Homo sapiens: one gene and its partners. The protein of the gene in region 2 purifies or fractionates together with the protein of the main gene of each other region. This does not show direct contact. Each region holds a gene or a part of one and is shown on either strand. Other genes may lie near its edges.

What was found.
Region 1: the proteins of PUS7 (region 2) and NSUN2 fractionate together in Homo sapiens (co-fractionation; one large-scale study listed by BioGRID). This does not show direct contact.
Region 3: the proteins of PUS7 (region 2) and EIF4G3 fractionate together in Homo sapiens (co-fractionation; one large-scale study listed by BioGRID). This does not show direct contact.
Region 4: the proteins of PUS7 (region 2) and PEX1 purify together in Homo sapiens (affinity purification with mass spectrometry; one large-scale study listed by BioGRID and IntAct). This does not show direct contact.

Annotation. Positions count from the first base shown.
Region 1 is NC_000005.10:6,619,545-6,623,044, forward strand, and holds part of NSUN2 (RNA cytosine C(5)-methyltransferase NSUN2), read right to left. Parts: intron 2,557-3,500; coding exon 2,472-2,556; intron 755-2,471; coding exon 562-754; intron 1-561. UniProt on the Homo sapiens protein: RNA cytosine C(5)-methyltransferase that methylates cytosine to 5-methylcytosine (m5C) in various RNAs, such as tRNAs, mRNAs and some long non-coding RNAs (lncRNAs).
Region 2 is NC_000007.14:105,504,283-105,509,442, reverse strand, and holds part of PUS7 (pseudouridylate synthase 7 homolog), read left to right. Parts: intron 1-898; 5' UTR 899-930; coding exon 931-1,328; intron 1,329-3,169; coding exon 3,170-3,254; intron 3,255-3,386; coding exon 3,387-3,488; intron 3,489-5,160. UniProt on the Homo sapiens protein: Pseudouridylate synthase that catalyzes pseudouridylation of RNAs.
Region 3 is NC_000001.11:20,858,898-20,862,397, forward strand, and holds part of EIF4G3 (eukaryotic translation initiation factor 4 gamma 3), read right to left. Parts: intron 3,436-3,500; coding exon 3,331-3,435; intron 1,621-3,330; coding exon 1,488-1,620; intron 1-1,487. UniProt on the Homo sapiens protein: Component of the protein complex eIF4F, which is involved in the recognition of the mRNA cap, ATP-dependent unwinding of 5'-terminal secondary structure and recruitment of mRNA to the ribosome. Functional homolog of EIF4G1.
Region 4 is NC_000007.14:92,490,521-92,494,020, reverse strand, and holds part of PEX1 (peroxisomal ATPase PEX1), read left to right. Parts: exon of another isoform or gene 1-891; coding exon 892-1,068; exon of another isoform or gene 1,069-2,518; coding exon 2,519-2,749; exon of another isoform or gene 2,750-2,778; intron 2,779-3,500. UniProt on the Homo sapiens protein: Component of the PEX1-PEX6 AAA ATPase complex, a protein dislocase complex that mediates the ATP-dependent extraction of the PEX5 receptor from peroxisomal membranes, an essential step for PEX5 recycling.

The DNA of each region.
Region 1 (3,500 bases), on a different chromosome or scaffold from region 2:
AGTATTATTTTATATCTAAACTCTAAATATCTAAAATGTTGATGTATTATCTCAAGAAAGGTATAAAAACACAAGCAAAATGAATTTCTTAAGGGCTTGAACTCCGAAATTTCTTTCATTCAACTAAATAACATAAAATCCAATGTGATTACGTATTATTTTATGACAAAGTTTTTTATATACTGTACTCACTGGAAGAACTAATACAAAATAGTTGGGGTGCACAAATTGTTCCAAGCAATAACATCCTAAAACACACCACAATAAGAGTCTACGATTCTATTTTCCTCTTACGTATTTTCTCTGTTTTGTTTTGTTTTCTCTTTATCTTTCTGCAGGCTATTGCAACCACCCCTTTCTGTTCTTTATCCAGCATCTGCTGTGCTGCTTCTCATTAAGACGTATCTACGTGTCCATCTTTTGGTTTAGGCTCACGCTATCTTTCTCCGCACCCCAAGACTTATGTACAATTGTGTCATATTCATGCACAACTTCATTTTAGTCTCTATTTGACTTGATTTCTTTAGTGGATTTGGGCTTTTTGGCCAATAAGATAAATACCTGCAAGGGACATCACATAAAATTCGATCATAGAAGAGGATCTCTTTCCTGCCGTCCACATCTATCTGGAGCCTGGGTATGCTGGAGGCATCATGGTTGACCACCATGATGCAGGGGCTGCTCAGCCTCTTGGCTTGATGGACGAGCAGGTAGCAGCGCTTGTTGTCCACATCATTCGCAATAACAAATCCCTCTGAAGGCACAGAATTGCAGTGTCAGGTGAAATGGAGCCTAAGTGGAATCACATCCTGAAATATGCGACCTCCAAAGGTCAGCCAGTGAGAAGCAGCAATCCACCAAACTTAAGACCCACAGTCAAGGTTTTCCAGAATTACGTTAAGTGGTTCAAAAAAAGGAACCAGGTGGCTCTGGATGGATTTTATGGACACTCGAATTTTGAAAGCCTCAAAAGTCATCTATTCAACAATTATTCACTTTGTGCCAATTACCATGCCAAAAATGTCTTTTCTGTTATTAGTAACGATTAACTACAAAAAAAAAAGATGAGGAGAAAGGTGTAGAAACAACAAAATCACCTTACAAATGTTTCAAAATCCTGAACACAAGCCGGGACCCTGCTCTGACTGTGAGTCAGGCTCCTAGGGTGGGGCCCCAAGCACCTGAACACGGAAGCTCTTCCCGGGAGGCTCTGCAGGCTGGGAAGTCTACTGGGTGTACCTCTGCTCATCTCTGGTTCTTCTCACACCCCCAGCAAAAAGGCAAATATACCAACAACATGTATGATCAAAGCCACTCTTCACAACAGTATGAAATGCAAAACATCCACAATACAAAAAGGAGAACCTGCTGCTACTGGGACGCCAAGGCTCTTTACTGCCAATGTGGAGAAAACAACTAAAAACAGGGAAAAGTGAAGCAGGCTTTTTAGCCAAGGCATTATCTTTAAACAATGTAAAAAAGAGGATTTCAAAAAACAGACCTAACAAATATGCCTATTAAAACAGAACTAGAGAAGTTTGCCTGAACAAAGATAGGACGAGATGAAAGCTGACTCTAAAACATCACGATGGGTATTTGTTTCCACTTAAGAGAAAGGGGCGTGGTGTCACTATAACAGCTAACATTTCCTGAGCACCTCGCAAGCTACATACTGATTCGTCCCATTTCACATGGGATGTCTAACACTGTAAGTAACTTGCCGATTAGGATTTGAACCCAGGGAGTCTGATGGTAGCTTTTAACTACACACTACTACCCTTCATGTAAGGCAGTAAGTAATAATAATAATAATAATAGTAATAATAATGAACAAAGGTGGGGGAAAGGGGAAATTGTTACTAAAAATTCAAACAGTGAAATCTATCTTCTGTAAGTAGGCTTGATAAAGAAACACCATCTGCAGCCGGGCGTGGTGGCTCACACCTGTAATCCCAGCACTTTGGGAGGCCAAGGCGGGCGGATCACGAGGTCAGGAGATCGAGACCATCCTGGCTAACATGGTGAAACCCCGTCTCTACTAAAAATACAAAAAATTACCCGGGCATGGTGGCGGGCACCTGTAGTCCCAGCTACTCGAGAGGCTGAGGCAGGAGAATGGCGTGAACCCAGGAGGTGGAACTTGCAGTGAGCCAACATCACGCCACTGCACTCCAGCCTGGGCAACAGAGTGAGACTCCATCTCAAAAAAAAAAAAAAGAAATGCCATTCGTTTTTATAGAAAACACACATAATTCTAAAATAAAGCTCCCCCATGGTATGAGTGTGTTTGTTTGAGTACTACTGACGGTGGTAGGCAAGATGTCCAGTTCTACTTCCGGTAGACGGAAAACCCAACTGCTTGTCATAGGAGACTTTAGAGCCAAATTAGCAGGCAAAGTTAGAGTCTTTTCCTTGTCTACAATCTGCCAAAGTGGCATTCCTACCATTTTGAACACAAGTCCAATGCATACCTGGAAAGGGGACATTCATGTCGGCATGTAGCATTTCAATTAACTGTGTGGTCTTTGAGCCAGGTGCTGCACACATATCTAAGATCTATTAACAAAGCAAGAAACTGTTTCATGTTTTTAAAAAACCAAATATTCTACATTTAATTTAAAGCAATTCTAGTTTTTCAATTTCTAGTCCAAGATCTAAATATACTTCTTTACAGAGTCTATAGCATGACATAATTTACTTTTAGGGATTCTACACTGCCCCAAAATCACAGAATGATATAGGTACAGTCTCCAAAGAGGATGGGAGGAGAATGAAACTGTAAGCCAGAGAGACTAAATATAGAGATGAACAAGTAAGAATCATGAAAACATAATGCTAAGGAACAGAGCTACCTAGACTCAAATCTCAGCTCAGCCAGTTAACAGCTCCGTAACCTCAGTTCAAGTACTTCTCCTTGCTTCCTTTTCCTCATCTGGAAAAATGGAGATGGTGACAGTATCTGCCCTTAGAGGGTTGTGTGAATGATAAAGCCAACTAATTCACCTAAAAAACACAGAGCAAGGCCAGGCACAGTGGCTCACACCTGTAATCCCAGCACTTTGGAAGGCCAAGGCAGGCGGATCGCCTGAGGTCGGGAGTTCGAGACCAGCCTGACCAACATGGAGAAACCCCGTCTCTACTAAAAATACAAAATTAGCAGGGTGTGGTGGTGCGCACCTGTAATCCCGGCTACTTGGGAGACTGAGGCAGGAGAATTGCCTGAACTCAGGAGGCGGAGGTTGCAGTGAGCCAAGATCGCGCCACTGCACTCCAGCCTGGACAACAAGAGTGAAACTCCATCTCAAAAAAAAAAAAAAGAAAAGAAAAAAGAGCACAGAGTAATGCTTGCCATACAATGAGCTCTCAATACATGTTCACTATCATTTTCAACCTAATTTAGCCAATCACCATCACTGAAGACAATCCATATGGTAAACAAATCAGTAAAACTAAAGGGGAGAAAATTTTCTAAACCATAAAAATTAAGTAGGACAAAAAAG
Region 2 (5,160 bases):
CTTTATTATTTCTTAATTATTTTCTTAAGATAAATCCCTAAAAGTAGTATTACTGGGTCAAAGAGCATACATATTTTTAAGGCTTGTGATGATGTGCGGAAGTATTATGCCGGTTTTCTGTCCCACAAAAAGTGTATGCCAACATCTGGAAGAATTATTTCTATAAATGATTTTTAGGATCGTATGAACAACATTAACTATGCCTTTATCTGCTGAAACCAACTTCTTTCCTTTTTTTTTTTTTTTTTTTTTTTTTTTGAGATGGAGTCTTGCTCTGGTCCCCCAGGCTGGAGTGCAGTGGCTCGATCTCTGCTCACTGCAAACTCCGCCTCCCAGGTTCAAGCGATTCTCCTGCCTCAGCCTCCTGACTAGCTGGGATTACAGGCGCCTACCACCACGCCCAGCTAGTTTTTTTTTTGTATTTTTAGTAGAGATGGGGTTTCACCATGTTGGCCAGGCTGATCTCGAACCCCTGACCTTGTGATCCGCCCACCTCGGCCTCCCAAAGTGCTGGGATTACAGGTGTGAGCCACCGTGCCTGACCTTTTTTTTTTTTTTTTTTTTTTTTTTTAAGACAATGTCTCACTCTGTCGCCCAGGCTGGAGTGCAGTGGCACTATCTTAACTCACTGCAACCTCTGCCTCCCGGGTTCAAGCAATGCCCCTGCCTCAGCCTCCCAAGAGCTGGGACTATAGGCGCCTGCCACCCACGCCTAACTAATATTTAGTAGAGATGAGGTTTCACCATGTTGGCCAGGCTGGTCTTGAACTCCTGACCTCAAGTGATCTGCCTGCCTTAACCTCCCTCAAAACGCTGGGATTACAGGTGTGAGCCACCGCGCCCGGCCTGAAACCAGCTTTTATATAGGTGATTGTTACTTTCTACTCTTTCCTAACAGGTTTTCTTAAATGTTTTCTTGGAGCCTTAAAGATGGAGATGACAGAAATGACTGGTGTGTCGCTGAAACGTGGGGCACTGGTTGTCGAAGATAATGACAGTGGAGTCCCAGTTGAAGAGACAAAAAAACAGAAGCTGTCGGAATGCAGTCTAACCAAAGGTCAAGATGGGCTACAGAATGACTTTCTGTCCATCAGTGAAGACGTGCCTCGGCCTCCTGACACTGTCAGTACTGGGAAAGGTGGAAAGAATTCTGAGGCTCAGTTGGAAGATGAGGAAGAAGAGGAGGAAGATGGACTTTCAGAGGAGTGCGAGGAGGAGGAATCAGAGAGTTTTGCAGACATGATGAAGCATGGACTCACTGAGGCTGACGTAGGCATCACCAAGTTTGTGAGTTCTCATCAAGGGTTCTCGGGAATCTTAAAAGAAAGGTACATTTAGTTTATGAATAAAGTTATTTTGATTGTATTAGGTTTCTTCTTTAGAAAGAAATTAGCTTTATATTCTTCCACTTAGCTTTCCATCTCCAAGGCTTGTTTATACTACTGATCAAAAGGAATAGGATGAAGGAAACCTGCCTGAATAAATAGCCTTGGATTTTTAAATTTTAATTAATTAATTTTTTCCCTTTTTTTGAGAGAGGGTCTCACTCTGTCACCCAGGCTGGCATGCAGTGGCATGATCATGCCTCAAATAAATTCATTCACCAGGCACAGTGGCTTACGCCTGTTATCCCAGCACTTTGGGAGGCCGAGGCTGGCGGATCACTTGAGGTCAGGAGTTTGAGACCAGCCTGGCCAACATGGTGAAAGCACATCTATACTAAAAATACAAAAATTAGCTGGGCGTGGTGATGGGCACCTGTAATCCCAGCTACTCGGGAGGCTGAGGCAGGAGAATAGCTTGAACCTGGGAGGTGGAGGTTGCAGTGAGCCGAGATTGCACCACTGCATTCCAGCCTGGGTGACAGAGCAAGACTCTGTCTCAAAAAAATAAGTAAATGAATAAATTCATTTAAATGGTTTCAGATTTTCTCCTGAGTTTGTTTTATAATCTTAAACTCTTTTTTCATTTGAATGTGCCACAACTATGTTAGAAGAAGGTAGTCTTTGGAGCCAGGTGGATCCCAGTGTGAAGTTCGCTACTTAGTAGTTACTTAGCCTCTCTGAACCTCAGCATCCTTATTTAAAAAATGGATCAGGCCAGACACGGTGGCTAACGCCTGTGATCCCAGCACTTTGGGAGGCCAAGGCGGGCAGATCACTTGAGGTCAGGAGTTTGAGACCAGCCTGGGCAACATGGCGAAACCCTGTCTCTACTAATAATACAAAAATTAGCCTGGCGTAGTGGCACGCGCCTGTAATCCCAGCTACTCGGTAGGCTGAGGCAGGAGAATCACTTGAACCCAGGAGGCGGAGGTTGCAGTGAGCCAAGATCAAGCCACTGCACTCCAGCCTGGGCAACAGAGCAAGACTCTGTCTCAAAAAAAATAATAGTAATAAAATAAAATTTTTAAATGGATCATATTACCACATTGGGGTTGTTGAGGATTTTGAATAATGCATGTAAAATATTTAACATAAAGGTAAGCTTCAGGCTAGTTCATGGTAGACTTACTGGGTTCTGATTCAATTAACCATATAGCATATTTTGTGATTTAATTTAGTGTGGGCTGCCTGAATCGTCATAGGGTAATGTTAATAAGCTTTTGTTTTTGCATTTCTCTGGAAGAATATTCTAGAAGCTAAGAGGGTCTTTTCTTTAAGTTCTCATATAAAACTTGAGCCAAGGTATGGCTCAGCATTCATTAAGAAACCAGAAAAGACCGGATGTGGTGATTCACGCCTGTAATCCCAGCACTTTGGGAGGCCAAGATGGGCAGATCACTTGAGGTCAGGAGTTCAAGATCAGCCTGGCCAAAATGGTGCAACCCCGTCTCTACTAAAAATACAAAAATTAGCTGGGCGTGGTGGCACGTGCCTGTAATCCCAGCTACTCGGGAGGCTGAGGCGGGAGAATCACTTGGACCCAGGAGGCGGAGGTTGCAGTGAGTGGAGATCGAGCCACTGCACTCCAGCCTAGGCAACAGAGCAAGGCTCCATCTCAAAAAAAAAAAAGAAAAAAAAAATTAACTCCATGTGATTTTGCACTGAAGATTTTTTAAAATTCCTTGTTTTGCATAATAGTAAGGCTTGCTGTTGATCAACTTTATCTTAAAATTAATAGAAAACAGGATGTTAATTATCTGAAAGTTCATGTTTTCTTTCATCAGATACTCCGACTTCGTTGTTCATGAAATAGGAAAAGATGGACGGATCAGCCATTTGAATGACTTGTCCATTCCAGTGGATGAGGAGGTAGAAGTAGCTCTTTAGCAAATGTCACCTTCTGTATAAAAATAGCATTTCCTAGAGATTTAGAAATATAGAGCTTTATTAAACTTGAATTCTATGTATGATTCATTGTGAGTTCTCATGGTTATTTTAAAGGACCCTTCAGAAGACATATTTACAGTTTTGACAGCTGAAGAAAAGCAGCGATTGGAAGAGCTCCAGCTGTTCAAAAATAAGGAAACCAGTGTTGCCATTGAGGTAACTAATGCAAAAATATATGAAAAATTATTTAGGGTTTTAGTTGCTTTTTGGGTGGATGTTAAGTGTTTATGGAAAAAATTACAATGGTTAACAAAGGGTGACTTTTTGCTCTATTGGATCTAAAGGATATTACACTAAAAAATTTTTTTACTGGGGCAGATAACTAGTATCCCAGATAAACTATAGCCCCCCCCAAAGTTACATTTTTGTTTAAAAACATTTTTATTTGGGTACAGTGTTACATGCTATTCCAAAGTCCTAGCTACTCCGAAGGCTGAAGCCAGAGGTTTACTTGAGCCCAGGAATTGGAGACTAGCCTGGACAACATAGTGAGACATCATCTCTGAAAAAAAAATTTAGGGACCACAAATGAACAGCGACATATGTTGTTTAGAATCCCAGAGTACCAATTATACCACAATGTCCGTTGTAACAGGACCACCATTTGCTGTCTGTCAGGTATGTGACCCAGGTCAGATTCTGGCTTCAGCAGCTTCTTGGCCTCAGTTGGGACTCTGGGAAGGGGAGGAAATGGGGAAAGGAAGTAGGGGAGCATTTATTTGCTCATCGTGGGTCAATTCTGCTATTGAAGAAAAGGAGAGCTCAGCTACTAAGTAGAATAGTAAATTTTGTTGTTAAAGCTTTTGTTCGCCGGGCACGGTGGCTCACACCTGTAATCCCAGCACTTTGGGAGGCCAAGGTGGGCGGATCACTTGAGGTCAGGAGTTCAAGACCAGCCTGGCCAACATGGCGAAATCCCGTCTCTACTAAAAATACAAAAAAATTAGCCAAGCGTGGTAGCGCAGGCCTGTAGTCCCAGCTACTTGGGAGGCTGAGGCAAGAGAATCTCTTGAACCTAGGAGACAGAGGTTGCAGCGAGCAGAGATCATACCACTGCACTCCAGCCTGGGCGGCAGAGCGAGACTCCATATCAAAAAAAAAAAAAAATTATGTTAAATTAATTTTGTACTACATTTTAATGAGCTATGGGGTTTTCGGTTGTCTGAAATTCCCCCTCCCAGCACTCCTAGTTAATAAGCGTACTACAACTTTTCAGAATTCATTATCTGCTCCTTGTCTCCCTCCTTACCTGAGCTTCCCAAAAGCGTGTGGTATTGCAATGTTAGAAATCTTCCATTACTGAAAAAATCTTTAGACAAAACCTTTAGCAATGCCAAGAGGAAAATTCCTGGCAGATTTCTAGAGCAATCCAGAAGGATGGTCCAAGTTTCCTTTGCTTGTACAATGCAGAGGTTTATCTTAGGCTTATAATATGTATTTTCGTATACATGTGGTAAAATTTACTATTGTCTTAAAAACTGAGGTTTTCCTATCTACTGAAAGTCTGTACATTTAAAAGGCATAAACTATGGGCAAGCTTCCTCATTTGTAAAATGAAGATGGACTTTCTGAGTTTTTGAGGTCTAAACATGTATTCATATACACAAACTGTCGTTCTCCTTGCTATCAGTAATTTCAGATCTAGACTCACTTTTTGCTATGAAGAAGTCATTTACCTGTAATCGTAATGTAGTTTGGTGGATTTTTTTCATTTTTTATTTTGTTGAAGTATCATTAAGTTGCTGGGCGCAGTGGCTCACACCTGTAATCCCAGCACTTTGGGAGGCCGAGGTGGGTGGATCACCTAAGGTCAGGAGTTCGAGACCAG
Region 3 (3,500 bases), on a different chromosome or scaffold from region 2:
GAGGCAGAGAACTGCTTGAATCCGGGAGGCGGAGGTTGCAGTGAGCCGAGATCGCGCTACTGCACTCCAGCCTGGGCGACAGAGCGAGACTCATCTCAAAAAAAAATACTTGCTGAATGAATTAATAAATTGAAAGATCACCGAACTGTCTATCCAAAAGCTTTTCTGGTCCTAACATAACGTCTTGATTTTCTCCGTGCTATCTGATATTACTGATCATAAACAGACTTGCTTCTTCCTTGTCTCTATGACACTTGTATCTTAGTCCTTTCTCTCCACTTGTCTGGCACTTTTCCAAGAGTTCTTTTCTTCCTTTAGTCATATGTGAATATCCTCCATGAATTAGGCTTTGGTATCTTCTCCTTTTCCCTCTCAATCTGGTTCAATAATAAATAAAAGTTATTACCCAAAAGGCACTGCACTAGGTACTAGAGCGAGGAAGGTAAGTGTGGTATCTCAAGAAACTTAAAAGTAAACTTTCTTCCATGCAGAATTCATCTCTCCTAACAACTTCACTATGAGCTCTACTGTGTCTGTGACAATAACTAATGGTTACTGAGTATTTACTATCAGCCAGAAAATTATCATTTCCCTCTGAAAAAGGTTTTCTTTTCCAACGTTCCTAAACTTAGTAAATGGACTATCGTCTCAGGTTTAAAATGCCTTCTACTTCATCTTTCACTTTTTTTGCATGTCTCTATTTTTGTTTTGTTTTGTTTTGAGATGTAGTCTCACTCTGTTCCCCAGGCTGGAGTGCAGTGGCGCGATCGCGGCTCACCGCAACCTCCACCTCCCAGGTTCAAGTGATTCTTCTGCCTCAACCTCCTGAATAGCTGGGACTACAGGCACACATCACTATGTCCAGCAAATTTTTTAGTAGAGACGGGGTTTCATCATGTTGGTCAGGCTGGTCTCAAACTCCTGACCTCAATTGATCCACCCACCTCAGCCTCCCGAAGTGCTGGGATTACAGGCATGAGCCACTGCGTCCGGCCTGCTACAAAGTGCCCCTTTCTTAAATAAAGTTTTCTTTCAGCTTTCTGTCTCTCTTCTTTTTCTCTAAATTTTAACAGTTAATGGAGAACACATTTCATAATTGATATACTATCTTCCATTTGCTTAACAAATGTTCCTCTTTTGCTTGTCAAAAGTTTTACCTTACCAGATAAACTGTACACTTTGAGAGGGAAGTAACTACATTTTCCACTTCCTTTTCTCGTCTCACCAATTCTGAGTATATAGAAGATGCTCAATAAAGTCTTATTGCTTACTGGCTTTTAAGTAGTGAAAGAAATCATGCTTTGTTCCTGCATTCTCTACTTTTACTCAGTAACTTTACTCTTCAGGTGAAACTGCTTCACCTAACAATCACCACTCTATTCTTTGGGCTGTTCTTTCTGATCTCATTTTATACCTAAATACATAATTCTTAATATGTATTCCTGAAACTTCCAAGTTCTCTAAACCCTGGTGGATTCCGGCCTCACCTGGTCTTCTCTTCTCTTTGGTCATGAGTTGCTGGACCTTCCTTTGCTCTTCTTGTTCTTCTATTTTAGCCTCTTTGTGAATCTGTTCGATAGTTTTAGGCCCTTGATCTGCTCTTCGAGATACCCAATTGCACTATAAAAGCAGAAAATAAGGTTATCTGCCAGATAAACTGAACATTTTTTAAAATTTAAAAATTAGCAATTTTTACTACTGGAAAAGTACAAAATACCTACAAAAGCTGTATTATGGCAGTTTCTCATGTATCTTATAGATGACACTATGAGCAGTTTAGGATTAGAGCTGAAGGATTAAAATCTTCTCAGTCAAAACTGGCCAATTGTATACTACATATTCCAATAGCCAATGGATACAAAGAACAGGGTGAAAGACTGGCCCAAATTTATTATTATATTTTTAAGCATGGCATATATTTCTCTGTGGACTAAATGGATTTTATCTGTATCAGTATTTTGTACATTTGAAAGGAGGAGAGAAAAATAAAAATGATGAGGATTCCTTGGCCTTGCCTTAATCTGTGGGATTACTACTCAGATCATATCACATTCCATAGGGGTTCTAAGTCAAGGATGACTCATGCTTTTATTTCTCCAATATCATGGTTCTGATATTCTACACAAAGGTCCATACCACTCTGCCCTTTGGTTATCCCCTGTATTAAGGACAAAATAAGTTGTCACTTTATACTTCTCCCTTCTCTTTCTAGCAACAGTCCCAACATCTGATATAAGTGGTTGATAACATGGGTGAAGACAACCACATCTAGTCTTAGCAAGATAAAGAATCATCATCAATGCTATCTGGCCTGGGTGGAGGAGAAATAAGAGGTAGGGCTTTGTTCACTTTCTCTAGTGTAGGGCTTGATGTAGTATATTCCCTGTAGGAGTGAAACTTACAAAAGAGTAACTCCCTGTAGGAGTTAAACTTAAAACAGAGAAAAGTAGTAGTAACAAAAACTGCACCCGGTAAGAGAAATGAGAAAAACAAAAAAACAAAAAAACAAAAAAAACCCAGCAGCAGAATAGGAGGGTCACAGGAAAAACGAAAGAGAAGAAAACACCAATATCTGAGCTGGGCACCTTACGTAATTATTCCATTGACTCTTCAACAAATCTGCAAGGTAGGCAACATCCTCATTTTAGAGATTAAAAATGTAAGGCTCAGAGAGTTAAAGGTATTTACTGTGGAGATGAGACTTGCTGATTATTTAGCTCACAAAGACTAAATTTAATTGAATTTACATTTGAATGGAGTTTGAATTCAGAATGGCTGATTACAAATTGCAAGTGGCTGGGCGTGGTGGCTCACGCCTGTAATCCCAGCACTTTGGGAGGCTGAGGTGGGCAGATCATTTGAGGTCAGGAGTTCCAGACCAGCCTGGCCAACAGCGTGAAATCCTGTCTCTACTAAAAATACAAAAATTGCCCAGGTGTGGGGGCATGTGCCTGTAATCCCAGCTATTCCAGAGGCTGAGGCAGAAGAATCATCTGAACCTGGGAGGCGGAGGCTGCAGTGAGCCGAGATTGAGCCACTGCACTCCAGCCTGGGCGACAGAGTGAGACTCTATCTCAAAAAAAAAAACAAAGCGCAAACAAAATTGCAATATGGTTTGATAATCAGAATAAGGAGAAGAAGCACGTAACTGGCAATAGGCCTTTTGTCCCTTCTCAGAACTCTCCCACGGAAAGTTTGCCAATCCAAATTCTGAGTCCTGAAGCAAAAGCACTATCTTTACACATGTAAACAACAGGACATCCTTCCCCAACCCAATTCCTTTAAAGAGACTGGACCAGCAGGCTTATTATTATTTTTTTTCCCACTCACCAGCCTTAGGTCTATAACATCTTGAAGCATGAACCGAATCCTAGATGAGGTTTTTCTTTCTTTCACAATTTTCTCCATCTGATTAAAGTACTGGTCCATACGTGGCTGCAAGAGACAAAATCATTAGTACTCCTGTCTGAGAAACTTAAACGTAATTTTACCAATTTACA
Region 4 (3,500 bases), about 13 Mb from region 2:
TTATCTTCTGTTCAAAGATTACATACTTCCATTATCCTGTCAAAAAAAAAACTCTGATACAGAATCAAGCATGTGAATCGTAAGCATGTAAGCAGGTTTCATAGAGATAATTTTTCAACTCTTCCTTGTCCTGTGTTGTTCCAACTCTTATTCTCCAATTTAGAAGCAAACAAATAAATGAATGAAAGAACAGATAGACAAATGAATAGTCAAAGGTATAAAGTATCTGTATATATGTTACATGTAGCTATTATTTAAATTATTTAGATTTTCCTTTTGAAATACCTTCTTGGCACACTTGCCTAAATCTAGAAAATAAGCACTGTGTGAATAAGAAATTATTTACACTGAATATTTTGTAGGTTTTTGGGTTTTTGTTTTTCAGACAAGGTCTCACTTTGTCACCCAGGCTGGAGTACACTGGTACGATCACAACTCACTGCAGCCTCTATGGCCCAGGCTCAAGCAATCTCCCCACCTCAGCCTCCCGAGTAGCTGGGACCACAGGCACACGCTACCATGCCCAGATAATTTTATTATTAATTTTTGTATAGAGATGGGGTCTCCCTGTGTTGCCCAGGCTTTCTTGAACTCCAGGGCTCAAGTGATCCTCCCACCTCAACCTCCCAAAGTGTTGGGATTACAGGCGTGAGCCACCATGCCCAGCCTTAAGAGTGTTTGATTTTCATTCATTTTCCTATATATATTATTTCTGTTGGGGAAAAAATTCCAAGGAAGATAAATAGTAGGCTGTTGGTACATTTCTCAACTTACTTATAAAGCTTTTTAGATATATAAGGTTAATTTATGAAGAAAATCATAAGATACACAATTTAAGATAATATTTTTAATTTTATTTTTTATTTGTTAAATAAATTTTTCTCCTTTCAGGTGTCACGTCTTGAAATTTTAAATGTCCTCAGTGACTCTCTACCTCTGGCAGATGATGTTGACCTTCAGCATGTAGCATCAGTAACTGACTCCTTTACTGGAGCTGATCTGAAAGCTTTACTTTACAATGCCCAATTGGAGGCCTTACATGGAATGCTGCTCTCGAGTGGACTCCAGGCAAGTTATATGAGGAAGTTGTTATGACATTTTATGAGTGATAAAAGAAGTACAATGTCAAAATTTCCACCTTAAAAAATGCTATTTTTTAAACAACTTTGGTAAAACTGTATAGAAACATAAATTTACCTTTAGTTGAATGTTCCATAGTTGGAATATGGGTTTTGCAGAGAATTTATAATTATGAAGTTTGATGTCTGTTTCTTTAACATTACCTTAATATTGGCAAAAACATGTTGGTGTTTGCAAGGATATTATTTAAATTGGGATACCATGAATTAAATACTACAAACAAAAATAATTAGAGTTTTTTGTTTGTTTGTACTTTAACTTTTAAAAAATAATCAGTTAAAGTTGTTGTTTTGAAGCTCACATTGTTCCAATCTGGCCAATAGGAGCCCCTTTTGTATGGCTCCTGTATCTTTATGACATGTCCTCATCATTCTTGAATCACTTCCTCACTTCCAGATACAGTAAGTTATTCTTGGCCAGGTGCAGTGGTTCACGCCTGTAATCCCAGCACTTTGGCAGGCCAAGGCAGGAGGATCATTTGGGCCTAGTTTGAGACCAAATCATGGTTGCACAAACTGTACCCACTATGGACAACAGAGTGGGATCTTGTCTCTGTGAAAAATTTAAAAATTAGCTGGGCATGGTGGCACATACCTGTAGTCCTAGCTTCTTGGGAGAGGCTGTGGCAGGAGGATCGCTTGAGTAAATCCAGGATGCAGTGAGCCATGCTTGTGCCACTGCACTCCAGCATGGATGACAGAATGAGACCCTGCCCCCAAAAAAGAAAAATATTCTTGGTTTATCTTGTACTTTCTGTATCCCAGCCCTAGCATCAGCCTTTTCTCTAAAGACAGTATTATGATTTTAATATTTACAGTAGATATTTGAACTGTTACATTATAGACTTTACCATATATTTTCTAGGAAGGATTATTCTATTACTCTTCTTTACCACATTTGTTTGGAATGTCTACAGAACCTACAGTTTCTAAATCAGAAACTCCCTAGGTTTTTGCTATTTTGGCAAGCCATTGAAGTTCTTCCCTCTCCCTTTACTACCAGAAAGGTGTGTATTTGTAGAGCTCTCTATAATGAGAAAGCACTCTATAACATGGTTGATTCATCATTTTGGAGTAGAAAAGTATGAATGGAAAGTCAGAGACATAAAAATAAAGCCCAGAGGTCTGAGTCTTAGCTTCATTACAGACTTTCTTGGGGGATGGTTGGTAAATTATCTACACATTCTATCTTGTCTTTATAATTTTAATAGTTAAATTTTTACCATGTGCCTCAAAACCGTTAGAGAATTAATGAGCTCTTTGAAAAATGCTTCTAAGTTTCTTGTATTGCTCTAATAGAATGCTATCTATGTTATTATTTATTTCTGAGACTAAAATTGTTTACATCTTTAAACTGGTTGTCCTTTTGTGTATTTTAGGATGGAAGTTCCAGCTCTGATAGTGACCTAAGTCTGTCTTCAATGGTCTTTCTTAACCATAGCAGTGGCTCTGACGATTCAGCTGGAGATGGAGAATGTGGCTTAGATCAGTCCCTTGTTTCTTTAGAGATGTCCGAGATCCTTCCAGATGAATCAAAATTCAATATGTACCGGCTCTACTTTGGAAGCTCTTATGAATCAGAACTTGGAAATGGAACCTCTTCTGATTTGGTATCTTGTGCAGTCATCATTATACAGTTCTGAAATATAAAGCTATATGTTGGTGTAAAGTTGCAGTGATTTCTCTCCTAACCAGCCCCACATATTCTTCCTGGTTGGTTGGTTCTTCAGTAAAATAGTCTTGTTTCTTGCTTACACTAATTGGTAATTTGCATTCCTTGTTAAGATTTTCAAGACAGGGCTGGGAGCAAGGAACCAAAGTAGCGCGTGGTTGTGATTACCTTTGGTTTCTTTGAGGTTTCTCTTACCTAGTGGCTTTAAAACATCTTTAGGAGCAGTTCCATTTTATAGTAAACTTAAATTCTGTTATCATGAACAGTTGAGGATAATGAATAATTTGATACAATAATGTAAGAAATTCCTGAAAACAAAGTGTTATCTGTGATACTTTTGCTGCATAGTAAGCACAATGAAGTGTACTGATAATGTTTCAACAGGAAAGTGTTTTGATTAAATGTGGGCAGTATCACTGTTCTACTAGCATTCAACATCTCTTCTAAAAATTAATAGTGGTTCACTGTAATTTTATTGGTACATGTAACATCTGTACATGTGTTTGGTTATCTATATGTTTCCTGGTTTTTTGTACATTTGCTTTATTAATTTAGGCTTTTTTTTTTTTTTTTTTTTGAGACAGTCTCACTCTATCATCCAGACTAGAGTGCAGTGGCACAATTATGGCTCACTGCAGCCTTGACCTCCTGGGCTTAGGTGATTCTTCCACCTCAGCCTCCTGAGTAGC